Linked DNA regions of Homo sapiens: region 1 is linked to region 2. Evidence: fine-mapped expression QTL. A gene starts in region 2. The other region holds a variant in brackets. All regions are shown on one strand. Distances are between the middles of the regions. Region 1 overlaps ANKIB1 (ankyrin repeat and IBR domain containing 1). Region 2 holds the start of ANKIB1 (ankyrin repeat and IBR domain containing 1).

Region 1 (8,709 bases), 150 kb before region 2:
TTGAGTCAGAGGCAAAGGACTTTATCACTCATGGCACAGCACTCAGAATGAACCTCAGCATATTTGCATCAGTTCCCCTTGTCTCCAGTTTCAAGGGGGCAATGCAAAGGACCTGGATGGACAGCAAGCACACGGTGGGGTTCATGTTGTAGTTCAGCTGAACACTGGGTGTGAGGAATCCACTTCTTAAGCAGTTAAGCCTGCTCCTTGATCTCAAGTTACTAGTTACATAAATCCTGAGATGGCTCAGGCAAAATTGCCAACAGGGCCTTGCAGTCTTGGCACACCTAGTAAGATAAGAGGCCTGACTGAATCCTCCAACAATTATCCTTTTTGTACTTTGGCTTTGTTCACTCTCATGTGTTTGTCTCAACCTGTTATGTACTGATGGCTCACACAGGCTAGGCACTTATGCAATAAATACTTAATGGGACAGCTGGCTAAGACATGAAGACAGCTTGATTAAGAATATTGTCAAATTGCAGTTTCAAAGAGTGAAGAAGAATAATTCCTTCAGAAGTTTGGCCACCACTAAGTCTGTCAGCTACCTGTGAGTCCTAAGTGGAACTGAGGTCTAAAGGAAACTTTTCTGATTCATCTTTAAGAAATAAGTCTACTGCCAGTTCCTAAAGTACTGTCACATAATACAGTCTAGAAGAAGCCACTTCTATCTTTCTAGAAAGAAATCTTTCATTCCGGTGAGAAGGCTGTAACAACTGACAAGACAATATAATGTTGCCAAGGAGAAGACCCAGTAATTATGCCTGTAGCACAATGCTGAGATGAAACAACTTCTGGGCCAGGCACAGTGGCTCTCACCTGTAATCCCAGCACTTTGGGAGGCCCAGATGGGCGAATTTCTTAAGCCCAGGAGTTCAAGACTAGCCTGGGCAACATGGTGAAACCCCGTCTCTACAAAAAATACAAAAATTAGCGAGCATGGTGGCATGTGCCTGTAGTCCCAGCTACTTGGGAGGCTGAGGTAGGAAAATCACCTGAGCCCGGGAGGTTGAGGCTGCAGTGAGCTATGATCACATCACTGCACTCCAGCCTGGGCGACAGAGTAAGATCCTTTGTTTTTCTCAGAAGAGAAAACAAAGAAAACAAACAAAAAAAAACCTACTACTCAGTCCAAGAGCTGACTGCATGAAAAATTTTTTCCTTTGGAGTTATTTCAGCCTTAAAACACCCCCAAAGTTTGTATTATCACTTAATATTTAGATTCCAAGGTTTTACTCTTCAGAGATATACTATCACTGCTTTTAAATTATGATCAAACTTTAATAAATTCCAGATTTTAATTCATAACACGTAAATGATAAATATTTGAGGACTCAAAGGAGATAAAAAATGAGATCAGTGGCTGTAATGAACAACAATTAAGGAATAATTCAGCCTATGAACATTGGTAGTTAAGCTTCAGATCCACATAATGAAAGGCATAAATAAGATGACGCCACTTTAAATGATTATCACCAGCAGACCCCATGAAGCACCAGCTGGGGCATGGTCAAATGTCATGGGTTATTTTGGTAACTCATAAGGGACACAATAATAAAGTGAAAGAGAAGCAGGCATTTTTATTCACATGGCATAAAATTTTTTTCTTTCCTAAGCAATTTCACAAAACATATCTTAAAGTTATTTTTCTATGTATTTCTATTAGAGTTCAAGAAAAAATAACATTTTTCTCCTGAAAGCTACAGTGATGTCAATAAAATGAGCACTGATGTCATAATGTTTTAACACATTGTCATGCAGTGTTTTCATATTTATAACTGGGATATAAAATGCTCAGTAAGTGGCTAGTGTAAAAATATTAGGCACTAATCAATTACATGTAAGAACCAAATTGATCCCATCACATTGGAGGGATTTAATTTGAAGAAAATCAGCTTTCTGACTTGGTTAAAACAAAGTCTACAATGTAATGAGACAAAATGGAAGTAGTTTAAGTAATAAATGTTTAATCAAAGAATTTTACATATTATTAACAGCATTCATTTGGCCAAACATCTACACGTTTGTAGAATCCTACTGTATATAAAGTGGGAATGTATCAAGTATAGACTATGAAAGTGCAAATAACAAGTCAAGGTTAGATTAACTTTTTTTTTTTACATTATAAAATTAACTTGTTTACAAAATAGGCTTTGCCAAACTTCATTACTGAATTGTAAAGTCAATGACTGTGTTGTTTTTAAAATATGTACCAAGGAAATACAAATTGGATAATGATCATTTTTCATGCTCAGGAGAGAACAGCACAGAAATAAAGGATACTGCACAAGGTGCAAGGAAACCGGAACCCATTGTGTACACTGTCTTCACACAGAGCATTCTTTCTCACCTTAACTGCAGCTGTGCAAGATGCCTCAGTGTGATGCAAAGACTCTATATTGGAAAAATTACAACTTGGTCTAAAAACTTATTGGTGTTGATATTTTTAATCCAAAATAAATTTATAAAAAAATCCTTTAATGGACTATTTCAGTTTAATATACAGTAATACACTGTAGATAAAGTTAATATTCCCCCCACTAATTTAATAGGGATTGATATCAATGTTTCTGATCACTGGAGAAATAAAAACTAATGTGGACCTTTGATATCCATGGCATAGGAGGATTCCCACAGTTTATCCTAAGAGGATCTGGGGAATATTAAATATTCTAATACAGTGTCTTAGCAATATGAATTTTAAGTACAAGGATATTTCAAAAGCAGGGTTTGGAAAAAAAAAAAGTAATCAAAACCCATAATCACATCTCTTGTGGATAACAATATTAATATAACTTTTTACCCAGCCCAGGACTTGCCTGTACAAACTCAGAACTGAAAGTTTGGTATCTGTAGACTTCTGGTAACAATCTGGCAAAACACTAAATGGAGTGTTGTACTTATCTATTTTGCTTATGTTATGCTAGTTTTGATAATATTTAAGTAAAACAGCCATTCCAACAGTTTACTCTAGTTTTAATTACACACTGTACCATTGTATCCTAATTACAACTAAGACCAGTATTTTCTTCACAGTAAGACACTGATAACTAGGAAGTTGATTTTTTTCAACACTAAACAGTAATCACACAGCAAATGAGTATTGCGCAGTAGAACAAACACATGTCAGCATTTGCTAGTTAGGCAAACAAACTGATTGAACATTTAGTTGTTATAGTTAGTGTAAAAGCAAGGCCATGGGTGGTTTTATGGAGGTCTTTGCAATTCATAGCATAGTTACTTCAGAAGAGACATTGAAATTTGAATTACTCACTTATTTAACTGGCAACTATCCATTTAGGTTAGGCAAAGGCACGGTAACATGTTGCGCAGGATGTTTTACTGAATTTCTTAATAATCGTGGGATTTACTATAACTCATGAAAACTCCACTTTTTTTCTATTTTATAAAACACGATTAAAAGTAATTGCACCCATCAGTAATTAGAATGCACTGTAAAATTGTGAAAACAAATAACTATGATTGCA[C/T]TTCCAATAAAGTGTCTCTTAAAATACAGCACCGCTGTTGCTAATCAACTGTATTTTAATATTAAAATAAACTGTTTTTAACAGCAGCATTAGGTTTAGTTAACTTAAGCTACAGGCTACATTTATATAAATGCAGTCTCCATGGCAACAAAAACCCATTTAATTCTGGAATATCATTGCTACCAAGTGGCACCTTTTACTCCCGAGAACGCTGACACTGCCCTGGAGCACTCTAGGATGCTGCACACCTAAATGCCTTGTTAGTCAGCACACAAGTAAGAGTTTGGCACAATTGGACTGTAAATAGACATGAAAGGAAACCTTTGATTCATGTGAAAATTAAAACTAATTACACTATGGTAGATGTGGTACTAAAGAGACTTCAATTCACATTGCTCAGACAAAAAGGAAGTAAGTTATGGAAGAGCACAAAGAGATTGAGGACATATATGTTATCGGATTTATCCAAAATAAATTTCTAGAATGAAGAAAACTTTTTTTTTTTTTTTAAAGGAAAGCCACCCAAAGATTAGGGAGTAAGCCTTTAGTTTAAATGTTCAATTTAAGTATTGTCAAGCCTAGGCTAAATAGAGGACTGCATTTTCTTAGAGTGTGGAATACAACTTATTTATTTCATTTTTGTTTCTCTTTCTCTTGCTCTTCTTTTTGTCAGCAAAAAGGGGAAAAGCTATTCAATTAAGTACAAAGGAAATTCCCTGTAAGGTTAAAATAAAAAATGAAGCTACCATTCAAGGGAACTTCTCTGTATTCAACCCTAATGTCAGTGGTTTATCACTGAGTTGGAATTAAGTGAATCAAAGTCTCTATCAAGCATACTCCACCTAGCATACCATCTGTACCTGTAATTCATTTAGAGCCCAGATGTGTGCAGTTCACACTAAATGTACTTGTTCAAGCCAGTCACTTGAGGTTTGAGGTGTTTGACTTGAAACATCTGAACCATCTCCTCTGTTGGCTGCCTCGTTACCACTGTCACCAGCTTGAGATGCTGCTTCCCCCGCCAGAATATTTTCTTCCAAAGGATTTTCTTCTATCTGGGTTCCTCTACCTTCACTGACACTGGCATCTTCAAACATTGAATCTTCTGGCAGCACCAGTTCCACATCCTTCACACCTTCTGACCCATCTTTGATACAGGGGAGCTGGGAATCTGCACTGATTTCTGTAGTTGCTGGAGGAATCAGGGCAATACTCTGAGGGTTCATGTCATGAAACCAAGCCATGATGTTGCCGAGAAGATTGTCATTGATGTTGGGGTCCTGGCCAGCTGAGTCAGGATCACTAGATGAGGGACAGAAATCACTTCTTGCCTCACTGAGAGGGTGTGAGCTCAGGGTGTCAGTTGAAAATGGGTCATTCTCTGCTCCTAGTCTCATGAGGCTGTCACCAAGTTCCAAAAGCTCAGAGCTGCTCAATGCAGCCCGAGGGCTATCTGTATTTCTGGGGACAGAGTCCAGCCTGGAAGGTAAAGAAGTGCCTATCGCACCTAAGGATGCTTCATTACTGAGGAAGTCTCTAGTTTCTTCATCGAGGGCCAGCCCAGACTCTTGCAGTGATAACTGTATTGCAAGAAGTATATTGGGATCGTCTTCATCCAAGGAACTCAGAGCCTGAAGCAACAGAAAGCAAAACCACTTTAAAATTTGACTGAAAAAAACTGATTTAACTCAATCAGGTTTACCATTCTTCCTTTACCAACAGATTATTAATTTTATTTATACAGAAAAATTATTTTATCTACTAAAATCTTGTATTTTTCTCCATGCCCATGCTAAAGGAAAAAAAAAACATACCTTAAAATAAATCTAAAATATAGGAATATCTTTTCCTGCAGCACATCTTTAAAACAAAGATTTTAGAATGGAAGGAAGAAATAGGAAAGCGATGAAAGTAACAACAGGAAACCACACTCAGCAGAGAAAGAGTAAAAGCACAGGCAATGAGGCTGTTCAGAAAGGCTACCTGAAGAGAGTCCTGGTTTTCAGAGCGACTGGCAGGGGTGTAGTCACGCAGGGAAGAGCTGTGCAGCACACTCATAGATGCAGAACTTACCACGGATGTGCCAGGCCTGCGGCTGCTGCTGCCGCCTTCTGGAATATCTGTTTCAAAGCAATTGGTACCAAAGACAATTTAGTGACAAATAAGACTTATTTATTTTTTTCATACATCTGGTTGTTTAGATGGGCAATTTCTCTTTCAGTGCTGGGGAAAACCTGTGTTGACATGTTCACTTAATCTTTCTGGGATTTCTCATCCATATTTGTCTTACCATGAAGAATAATATATATATGATACTATCACTTCAAATCCGTAACTTTTTACTTTTTTTTTTTTTTGAGATGGAGTCTTGCTTTGTCGACCTAGCTGGAGTGCAGTGGCGCAATCTTGGCTCACTGCAACCTCTGCCTCCTGGGTTCAAGCGATTCTCCTGCCTCAGCCTCTCGAGTGGTTGGGACTACAGATGTGCACCACCATGCCTGGCTAATTTTTGCATTTTCAGTAGAGATAGGGTTTCACCATGTTGGTCAGGATGGTCTCCATCTCCTGACATTGTGATCCGCACACCTTGGCCTCCCAAAGTGCTGGGATGACAGGCATGAGCCACCGTGCCTGGCTGACTTTTTTACACTTTTGCTTGCAGTCTATATAGTTCTATTCATAAATGCAAGTGCTACTATCCATTTCTCTTTTTTTGTTAAGCAATAACTAATAAACGTTTTTCATTTTTAGATTTCTTAAAATTAAATAATTTGGGAATTACAATAGTCTGAAGAGCAAATCTTTAGTCCCATTGATCCTGACATTATAGTCAGAAGATTTTCACTTAATAATTTAACATTTAAAAGTTGAATAATTAAAATAATTTATCTCTAATGCCAGAAATTCTCTCTCTTTTAAATAATGTCTACAGGACAACTAAGGCTAGGAGACAAATATTCCATGAACACAAAACAGTATCAATCAATACTACAATTAACTGAGTGCTTCACTAGGTGCTTAAGTGTTTTAGATGCATTATCTAATTTAATACTCACAATGAGCCTATAAGGTGGCACTATTATTATTGTGTCTTTAGAATATGGAAACAACCTTAGAGAGGTTGTGACCTGACTAGGTTACACAGCTAATATGCAGCAGAGATGGGGTCATGAATCCAAGTTTGCCTAACTCCACAGACCATGCTCCTAACTCCTCTGATTTTCTGTGTCCTGTCACAACAGAAACATCTGCATATTTATTGTATATCTAAATGACAAACTCGTTCACAAAAATTTACATCAGCCAGTTTGAAGGATAAATTCAGGGGAGCTATGAGATTAAACCATACTCAATGCAAGGACTTACCTAAAGTGCTTTCACTTGGCTCATCAGGGTCTGGAGGATTACTGAGTAGACTGTGAACATCTCCTCGACGACGTTGTCTGTGCCTCCTCCGATACTGAAATTCAGCATATTCCTGCATAAACCAAAGGTTATAAAATACAAGAGAGCATGCAATTTTTAAAATGCAAATAAAACAAAGTACACACTTTTTTCCAGGGGAAAAAGTTTGTGATTTTATACACATCTTATAAAATCACTTGGCTGAAACATCAGGTTTTGCCATGCCAAGGAAACACAAAAGGTAAAATGGAAAAAGAAAGTTTTCAACAGTCATTACAATTGCCTAGATAAATTAGGAATACTTGCAAGCCCCAGTGCTACATTAGAACAGCCCTATTTTATATGCCTGATGATTTCAAGGATCTTGTTATCTAATTAATACTACAACCATATTACTCATTTAAGTAAGGCTTTCCTTGAAGGGAGGTTTTTTATTTTTTATTTTTTTATTTTTAGAGTCAGAGTCTTGCTATGTTGCTTAGGCTGGTCTTGAACTTCTGGCCTCAAGCAATCCCTACTGCTCGGCCTCCTAAGTAGCTGGGATTACAGGTGTGAGCCATTGAAACTGGATATGAAAGTGGCTTTAAAAACGTGACCAGGGGTGGGTGCTGTGGCTCACGCCTGTAATCCCAGTACTTTGGGAGGCCGAAGCAGGCAGATCACCTGAGGTCAGGAATTTGAGACCAGCCTGGCCAACATGGTGAAACCCCATCTCTACTAAAAATACAAAAAATTAGCCGGGCGTGGTGGTGGCACCTGTAATCCCAGCTACTCGAGAGGCTGAGGCAGGAGAATCACTTGAACCCAGGAGGTGGAGGTTGCAGTGATCCGAGATTGTGCCACTGCAGCCTGGGCAACAACAGCAAGACTCCATCTCAAAAAAAAAAAAAAAAAAAAAAGTGACTGGGATATATGTAACAGAAAAAGAAAAAAAGGAACAACAGTAAAAAATAACACACACTGTTAAGTACTTGCCAGATTGTTGGATTTTCTATTCTTTGGGACTACTACATATCATATTCACAAATCAAATGACTAGATTAAAAGACAAATGTTAGGTTAGCTTTAAAATAAGATGATTATTTAGCTTCTTTTCTATATAAGCCAATATGTGGTGCTATTTACAACACAAGCAGGGGAAATGTTTTCTATTTAGCATATGGGATGAACACAGACTTAGGCAGATGTCCTCAGCCTATTCCACATTTGTGACAATGTTTAAAGTTAGTTTGTTATCACCAGAGGGTACAACCTGGGACCATCGCTATTACCTGGGTATAAATGTGACAGAAGAGAAGAGAATAAAAGAGAAGGGAAGAGAAGAGAGGAGGCCAGGGTACATGATACCAACATAAAAAGGCTAATTTAGAGAATCATTATGGTGTCTTTCCATGATAAACACTAAGATATTCAACTTTATGATTATCCTGGTTACCCTAGAATATTCAATATGCTTATATTGTGAAAGTACTAGAAGTAGGTGAAGACAAATTTTGGATCACAAATAAAACTTTCACATCATACCACTCTGGTGACATTTATTTAAACTCCTTTATTTATATAAGCAGTTGGACTCTTAAGAAGTGGGAGGCATCCTGTTAGGTTAGAAACTAATAAATGAAAGATACTCCAAGTGCCCTGAGGGTTTATACTGGTTCTTTAAAATGCCTTGCTGAGGTGGGACATCATTTCCTCTTCTCCTAGAGGCCCATGACCTCAAACTGATGACTTAAGTGTCGTCAAGGCTCAACAGACCAGTGAGGAACACCAACTAGATTTCTTAGACAAAGATGGTGTGAAAATTTTATCTCAATTC
Region 2 (8,599 bases):
ACATTTTAAAAGCTTGTGGTCCCGTTGTAGAACTAGAGGGAAAAAAAGGTAAACATGCCTGAAGATCTGTTACAGTTAACCATAATGAACTTTAGAATTATGTCTTTTCAAAAGTTTAAACAATGACTGAAAATTATTTTTGATAGTATATAATTATCTGCTTTATTGATTTATTTATTTTTAGGCGGAGTTTTGCTCTTGTTGCCCAGGCTAGAGTGCAATGGCGTGATCTCGGCTCACTGCAACCTCTGCCTCCTGGGTTCAGGCGATTCTCCTGCCTCAGCCTCCCGAGTAGCTGGGATTACAGGCATGTGCCACCACGCTCGGCTAATTTTGCATTTTTAGTAGAGATGGGGTTTCTCTATGTTGGTCAGGCTGGTCTCGAACTCCTGACCTCAGGTGATCCGCCTGCCTCAGCCTCCCAAAGTTCTGGGATTACAGGTGTGAGCCACTGCACCCAGCCAAATTATCTGCTTTAGAACACAAGATATACTAGTACCTTATGAAATTAGGATTTTTCTATTCAAAGCAATATTAGAGAATTAAAAACTGTTAATGACTGTACGACAGCTTCTCCCCTTTAAGGACTGTAAGTCAAATCTTTTCGAGAATATTACAAGAAAAAAAAATCCAGTAATACTATACACAAGATTCTGTATGGCTTTTTATTATTAAAATAATTTAGTTTAGTTTATTCGCGTGTGGGGGGGGAGATCTTTAAATGGAGATAAAATATATTTTGGGACTGTTCTAAGGATTAAATGAGATAACGTATGTAAAGCACTTAGCATGGTGACTGGCACAAATTAGGCACTCAATAAATGGCATCTATTGTGCTTATTCTTTTTTTTTTTTGAGACAGAGTCTCACCCTGTCACCCAGGCTGGAGTGCAATGGTGCGATCTCAGCTCACTGCAACCTCCACCTCCCAGGTTAAAGTGATTCTCCTGCCTCCACCTCCCAAGTAGCTGGGATTACAGGGGCGTGCCACCACACCCAGCTAGTTTTTTGTATCTTTAGTAGAGACAGAGTTTCACCATGTTGGCCAGGCTGGTCTTGATCTCTTGACCTCATGATCTGTCCACCTCGGCCTCCCAAAGTGCTGGGATTACAGGCGTGAGCCACAGCACCCGGCCGCTTATTCTTATACACAGGATATGAAACAACCTTGCAACAGGGTCAAGTGGCTTAAAAACCTGTAAGAGAAGCCAATAAAGGCAGGTGAATAGAAATCACAGTCAAATATCTAGACTGGTAACCTCAATGAGGAAAGGAACCTTGACTAATTTACCCTGGTAGTTCCAGAACCTAATAAAAGTGCTTGGCACACACAGTAGATGCTCAACAAAGGTTTACTGAAATGAAGTGGACATGAAAGTATCTGGAAGGCCAGGCGCAGTGGCTGACACCCATAATCCCAACATTTTGGGAGGCCAAGGCAGGCGGATCACCTGAGTTCAGGAGTTTGAGACCAGCCTGGCCAACGTGGCAAAACCTCGTCTCTACTAAAAATACAAAAATTAGCCGGGTGTGGTGGCGGGCACCTGTAGTCCCAGCTACTTGGGAGGCTGACGCAGGAGAATCGTTTGACCCCAGGAGGCGGAGGTTGTACTGAGCTAAGATCACACCACTGCACTCCAGCCTTGGCAAGAGAATGAGACTCCATCTCAAAAAAAAAAAAAAAAAGAAAGAAAAGAAAAAAGAAAAAAAGTATCTGGAAAAGAAAGAGGCAGTCTGAGGTTATCTGAAAAATAAACTGAGAATCCAAAAATTACCATTCCCCCTAAGGAAGTCACTTTGAAAAGTAAATTAAAAACCTAAACATTTTTAGATCAATGTATAAAAACTCCCACAGACTGGTCTCTTTAATAATGACTTAGTCCACTCCCAAATCCTTTTTGGCAAATGTGTCAAATATTTGAAGGAAATATTTTAAAACTTAATCTAAATAAATGTCATATGCATCCTCAATGGGGGAAAAATTACCCAAAGCACTGAGGAATCTTTTCCAACTTCATTTCAAGGACATTCAGATTAACTTAATTCATAGTTCTTCCATCTACTTATATATGAAAATGAGCTCGCACTTTTATCTACAAGCAAGTTGTAAATACACATATTTCACTTTCACAAGTTTGAGTGCATACCCCAGAAAAGAAAGAGGAAAGAAAACCCACTCTTTGAGAAGTGGGCAGTGCCACAGGAGTACAAAAGAGTGGCTAACAAAACTTCCCTCCCATGTTTCAGGAGTCACCTACCTGTTAGAGCCCTTGTTTACAGCACAGTTGGCACAGTTTCAGACTCCTTACATATTGAAAACTCAAAATTCTCGGTGTAGTGGTCAAGGGAACAGTGAAATAGGAAAATATAGTTCTATCTTCCCCATCCTACCCCAAGGAAAAGAGAATCAACAACATTTTTTCTAAGACTTCTCCAAGATAGCGCCCATCACCTCACTATAGCACCCTACTCTTATTCAGAAACTGAACAATTTTACAGAAAGCAAAAGCCACACCCTTAATAATACACTCAACTCTGCACAGTGCTTGGCTTCTGTGCTAAGTACATTTCCAGAGACAGAGTTGGAGCTACATCTCCTGAGCCTACTTCAAATTAAAATCTGTGAACAGTGAGAAGTTACAAATCAGATAATAGCCCAAAATCAACTGCTGAAAGGAGGTTGGGGGGAAAAGTCATTAAACACATCCATCTTTCTTAATGAAATGACAATGTTTTTCAGCAACACAAAACACCAAAGCTACCAGTCTACACTACACAGTAGTTTGCAGAATGACAACCTGCAGTACACAGTAAAATTATTCTTAAATTATCGTTTGCTTCCTATGGTGCTCTGAAAAGTAGCAAATGCATAAAGTCATATAAGAGCTATTGTCCAATCACTGACAGCATTAAAATTATTTTTAAATCTAATTTCTGGAAAGTTCTGCAGGAGCAGTTTGAAAAGCAAATCAAATTCTAATGAGAAAAAACGCCTAGTTCAAAAATCTGAAAATATACTTTGAAGACATTCACAGTTTAAGCAGCAGGAGGGTCATAGGCACCAAGGTGTGTAACATCTGTGAGTGGCTGATACAAAAAAAGATTTCTCTGGAATTAATGATTGAAAATAATTATCAAATACAATCTAATATGATCTTTAAACGTCTGTCTCAAAAGCAACAAAGCAAAAGCTTGTAACAAAGCAAAACCTTCCAATACACAGATTTTTACACCTTACACATACCCACATACTTCACAAATTAAGAACTAGATGAAAATTAGAACACTAAAATTTAAAGGTATCTAAAATACACTATTTGAAACAGCAGACTCTTATCTTTACATTTATCTGTCAGATCTACCAGTAAAGCTCTTCTGAAATGGTCATTCCAATACAAGATTGTTCGATATGCCATTCCGTGTGAATAGAGCTTGGGAGACTAATTCTCAAAATCTCCTCAGGAGATGCTTTATTACAGCTCTAGTTTCAATTTCCTGCGACTCAAACAGCTACGTACAGAAAAACAGCTCATACATACGGAGAAGAATAAGAATACAGGGGAGCGCTCCATTCTTTTGTTTTGGTGGCAGAAGCTGCAAAAATAAAGGTTCACTGGAGCCATCTGCACCTATCCCCACCCATCACAGCCCTGCAGAGCACTTTTACCCATCCGCTTCTCAAGACTCTCTCTAGCCCCCGAGGTCGGCAGAACCCGTGGCTTTCCACGTCTCAAAGGATGGGGGTGGGGGGGAGGCTGCGAGGAAGGACACAGATCCTTTGAGGACAGAGGGACAAGGAGATGCATCCAGATGGGGAGGATGGGACGCGTCACGGAGACCCGGAGGCTTGCAAATTCGCTGGGAGAAAAGCCCTGTAGGGCAGAGAATGCTGCCTGTTCAGGGATGGGGACAGACAGAACAACAATGCTCCAAAACAGGCGACAGACACACTCCTAGTAGATCCGGGAGGGTGTGAAGTAGGTAGCTCTGAACTCGGAGCCACAAATGGGTAGAGGCAGCCTCAAACACATCTGTACCGCGAAGCTGAGACTTACGGTTACTTCTCTCGCTGAGGGTAAGGGTCGGTGGACCCAGCAACTCCGCAGTTCCGCCTCCGCCGCCCCTGCCTCTACAGCCGAGCTGGTGACCTCAGGTACCCAGCCCGCCCCACCCACCCGGACGGTTGCCCCTTCCTCGCCGGCCCGGGTGCACCCGCCAGGCGGAGGCTGATGTGGCCGAGGGTGCGCACTGGCGGCCCGCGGGAAGCGCTGCGTGAGCCGAAGGCGCCCGCGGCGAGGCTCAGACTGGGTGGGCGCCCCCCATCCCTCTCCGGCCGCTGCGCCGCCTCACTCGGGGGAGGGGAAGAGGGGGCGGTGGCTCTTGCCTCCGCCTCGCGGTCAAGCCCGGCTCATGTTCCAGCCTTGCGCGCTCGCAGCCCCGGCCGCCCTCTTCCCCTCCCCCGCCTCCGGCTCCGGCTCCGGCTCAGCCGCTGGCACCCCCACCGCCACCACCCTAGTCTCCTAGTCGCCTGCCACCAGCCCCTGAGAGACTGCAGGTCCAGTGAAAAGGAGCAGGAACGGCAGCAGCCCGGCCGCCGACCCGGAAGCTCTTTCACCGCCAACCGCGAGGCTGCAAAGGGTGTGAACCCGGAAGCGATTTCATAGCCACGGTAACGGCGGGGTGGAAAGCTAAGGCCTTTGAAGACCTGGGACCCCGTAGTTTCGGGAGAGGGTGAGGGGTGAATGGTGCTGAGGTGCGAGGAGAGGGAAGGACAGTAAAGAGCAGGTGGGCAGGAGGGTCTCCGACTCCAGAGACCTGAGCTTTTGGGGCGCGGGTGGGAGCGCGGGGGAACCCTCAAGACGGCTTTCTTTTGGCGACTGAGGGTTTTTCTGCCACAGGAAGCTGGGCCGGGCTGCTGTGCCTGGGAGGAGGGAAGGAGGAATGAGAAAGCGGTGACGGTCCCTGCCCCCCCTCGCCAGGTGACTGTCCCACCCATTTAGTTGAATGTAGCGGCCAGAGAGGCACTCGCGGCAGCCCGTACGGGTGGGACCTCTCGGTGTCCTTCGGGAAACAGGAGGAGCAAGTTCGACTCCAGCGAGGGAAAACGGAGGTGGGAGACTGAACCATCTCCACATCTAGTTGCCCCAGGCAAGGAGTTTATTTTTCACATGTAGTTACAGAGAAACCATAGCCACTTTTTGGGTGGAAACTCTTTGAGCAAAGAGGCTTACGTTTTTCCCCAGTAGTGGACGTTGACGGGTGGTGGCGCAGGAAAAAACCTCCCAGGCAGAGTGATTACGTATTTTTGTCATTGCAGGGAAAGGGATTCACAGCTTGTCATTCTAACTCACTTCTCCCCCTGTAACTCACTTCTCGCCTCTACACTTTTCTCCACCTTTTAAGGTTTTTGGCTTTCATCGCTTTTTCTACATGTTTTTAGCCTCACCAGAAGTCTTTCATCTCGGTGGTCCAACTCAGGATCTCAGCCTCATTATTTTCTTACCCTTCTGGAGTGCATATGTGCCTTTACAGTTTCTGTTTGCAAACGCTGTCTAGCATACTAAGAGGATGTTAGCAAACCTGTTCCATGGACACTAAATGGCAGTTGTACATCTCCCCTCATCAGTCATAGTGACAACCAGAAATGCCCTCCATATTTTCCAGTGATCCCAGGTAGGTGCCACCCCCCTAATTAAGGACCACTTCCACTGCTTTATTTATAAGATCTTATTACTTAGGGAGCATATTATCATTTGTGCCTAACATTTTCCAGAATGGAGTGAGCCATATAACAAAATGCCACGTTTCCTGTACTTATTCACTTGAACCCTCATCTCAGACTCAGTCTAAACATATTGCAAACTCTAGTTATACCTTTCTTGTATTTTAGTTCAAGCTACTCATTTTCTATCAGTTTGTCTGTGTTTCTCCCTTAGCAGTTTTACCTTCCTATGTTAGTTACTTTTGTTATTTTCCTGTTAAGCCTTTGTTTCCTTCTTTCATGTCACTGGAAGAATGTAGATTTTAAGTAGTCAAGTACGAATAGTTCTTGAAAATGAATTTTAAGAATATTTTGGGGATATGGTAAAAAAGTATTTGGTTTAAGAAAACAAAATACTGTTACTGTCATAGTTATGTCTTTTTAAAATCACATTTGTTTACCTTTTAAAAGTTCAGGCTTCTGTGCAGTATTAATTAAATATTCTAGAGAAGTGATGAGTATTGACAAAGTACTTTGCTAGTAAATGTTTTCTTAACATGAGTTGACCAAGACAGGAATTGATTTGCTTTAAATTGTCTTTAGAAAAGTAAGAGTTACTTGATTTTTCTTTTAGGTCCTTAATAGATAAAATGGTTTCTGTAATTGTGCCCATATATCATACAGTGTATTCACAATACAATGTCTTTCTTTTTGGGGCTTGCAGTCTTCAATGCGTCTGTCTCATAATTTGTAAACGTTTATTATCTTGAAGTCATTGTTAATCTGTGGTGAAAAGTAATTGCTAAATAGAAATTCTGAGAAGAAAAAGGCCTCATCCTTTTCACATGATGTAGGAAGGTCTGTTGCATGAGGTGGGTTTTAAGAATGATTTTATACAAAAAATTGAACTGAAAAAAATTTCATGAAGTATATAATGATAAAGAATGATAACGTCCTCAAAACCTTTCACACAATGAAATGTCTCTATCCTAATGTGTCACTGTATTTTTTTCTAGTGAAATATCTGTAGGGTTTTTTTGGATCTAAATCAATGGAAAGTTTTAGAATTTAAAATAAATTTGAAAAGTATTTAAATTATTTTATTTAAAATTTTTGTACAATAATTTTAATGGTTGTTTTAATCTTAGGCTAAAGTTTATGTAAAATGCCAAAAGCTACTGTATTTTAAAAGAATTTCTTCTTAGGGTAATTTTACAATCATAAGGCACTTTTTAATTATTATTTAGGGAAGTGAATTAAAAGTTACAGAGTGACATTTTCAGTTGCAGTGGAAGAAACAGGATAAATTACTCTATCGCCTCTCAAATAACATTCAAAACCCTTTCTTGAAAATGGTCTATCTTGAGAGTTGCAGCAGTAGGGAACTCATTAAATATGAACAGGTAATTTTAATGCCTAATGGTTTTTAAAAAACTGAAGAAAGTTCATCTCAACATAGCTGGGAAAGAAACTCTTTAATGTTCTTTTAGAAATTTACTGACAAATAAATGGGGAGAAGCTTTTTCAAAAAAAGATAAAAAATAATCAGTACAGAAAGATGCACTTTAGTGTAGCCATGAAAGAAATTTATTCAATGAAGAAAACTATTATACAACTAAGATTGTGGTTGAAATTCAGTCACTTGTTGGAAATTGCGCAATGGAGACTTAAGATTTAGTGGGACAAAGTATATGCATAACACACACGCACACACACACACAGTGAATATATTTGGAATAAAAAATTTGGATTATTGACAGGTGTGGTGGCTCACGCCTGTAATCCGAGCACTTTGGGAGGCCGAGGCAGGTGGATCACTTGAGGTCAGGAGTTTGAGACCAGCCTGGCCAACATGGTAAAACTCCATCTCTACTAAAAGACACAAAAATTAGCCGAGCATGGTGGCACACGCCTGTTAATTCTGGCTACTCAGGAGGCTGAGGCAGGAGGGAGAATCGCCTGAACCCGGGAGGCGAGGGTTGCATTGAGGCGAGATTGTCACTGCACTCTAGCCTAAGTGACAGAGCGAGACTCTGTCTAAAACAAAACAAAACAAAAATTTGGATTATCAAGGAAATTGATAAGGGAAATGGAAAAGATTCTTAAATCACCTTCAGAAAGCTTTTATCAACTGACCAAATAGTTTTGGTTCTGTGATAAGCAACTCCAAAGAAAATTACATACTACGCTTTAGCTCATCCAAATGTCTGATATCAAAGTTATCCTTGCTGAAAGTTCTGGAGTAAATGTCAATGGATATAAAACATCTACCATTTCCAGCTTCCAAACTGTTAACAGTATAACTAACATTCACTTTTGTAATTTATGGAAAAAGTGTATATTATTCTGAATCACTATTTCAAGTCATTATTTACAAGTTATTTTATAATCATCATCACTTTTTTTTGGCCCCAAAGGCAGATTCTTACTATGCAGTTAACACCTATGAAAATGTATAACCCTATTTTAAAATGAAAAAAGAAATACAAAGGAAATCTTAAATTATCAGCTAAGGTTTTGAGTAGTTGAACAGTAAAGATGCAGTCAAAGTCATTCCTGGCTTGCCTTTTAGGCACTGTATATTCTAGGATAGAGAACATTTTATTTTTTTTTAATTTTTTCGACATGATTATGTGGAAATAAAAGTTTTCAATTTAAGATGCATTACTTTTTTTTATCTTGCCATCAAATGTGTCATTTAATCTTTCAAAGGATTTTTTTATTTGTTTTGTAAAGCAATGGGAAATCCAGAAAACATAGAAGATGCATATGTTGCTGTTATTCGTCCAAAGAATACTGCCAGTCTCAATTCTCGGGAATACAGAGCTAAGTCATATGAAGTAAGAACATTTAATAATAATTTATTTCTACCATTGAATGTCATTCTGTATTATCATT

The links. PIP is the estimated chance that this variant, and not a neighbour inherited with it, causes the effect. A credible set is the group of variants that fine-mapping cannot tell apart.
Region 1: its variant is the best candidate, but not a certain one, in a credible set for the expression of ANKIB1 in whole blood (INTERVAL, PIP 0.88).

Annotation. Positions count from the first base shown.
Region 1 is chr7:92,394,622-92,403,330 of GRCh38, reverse strand. ANKIB1 (ankyrin repeat and IBR domain containing 1) reads right to left here. Exons shown (of 20, transcript NM_019004.2): 18 at 6,855-6,966; 19 at 5,472-5,608; 20 at 1,948-5,119. The coding sequence ends at 4,382. Among named protein-coding and RNA genes, the nearest start is that of GATAD1, 49 kb to the left of the region's middle. The variant C/T (reference allele first, on the strand shown) is at 3,489.
Region 2 is chr7:92,241,976-92,250,574 of GRCh38, reverse strand. ANKIB1 (ankyrin repeat and IBR domain containing 1) reads right to left here and starts at 4,601. Exons shown (of 20, transcript NM_019004.2): 1 at 4,056-4,601. It overlaps KRIT1 (KRIT1 ankyrin repeat containing), which reads left to right and starts at 4,661. Exons shown (of 19, transcript NM_194454.3): 1 at 4,661-4,785; 2 at 5,404-5,673; 3 at 6,426-6,573; 4 at 8,438-8,541. The coding sequence starts at 8,440. RefSeq lists a silencer at 4,166-4,555 and an enhancer at 4,486-4,780.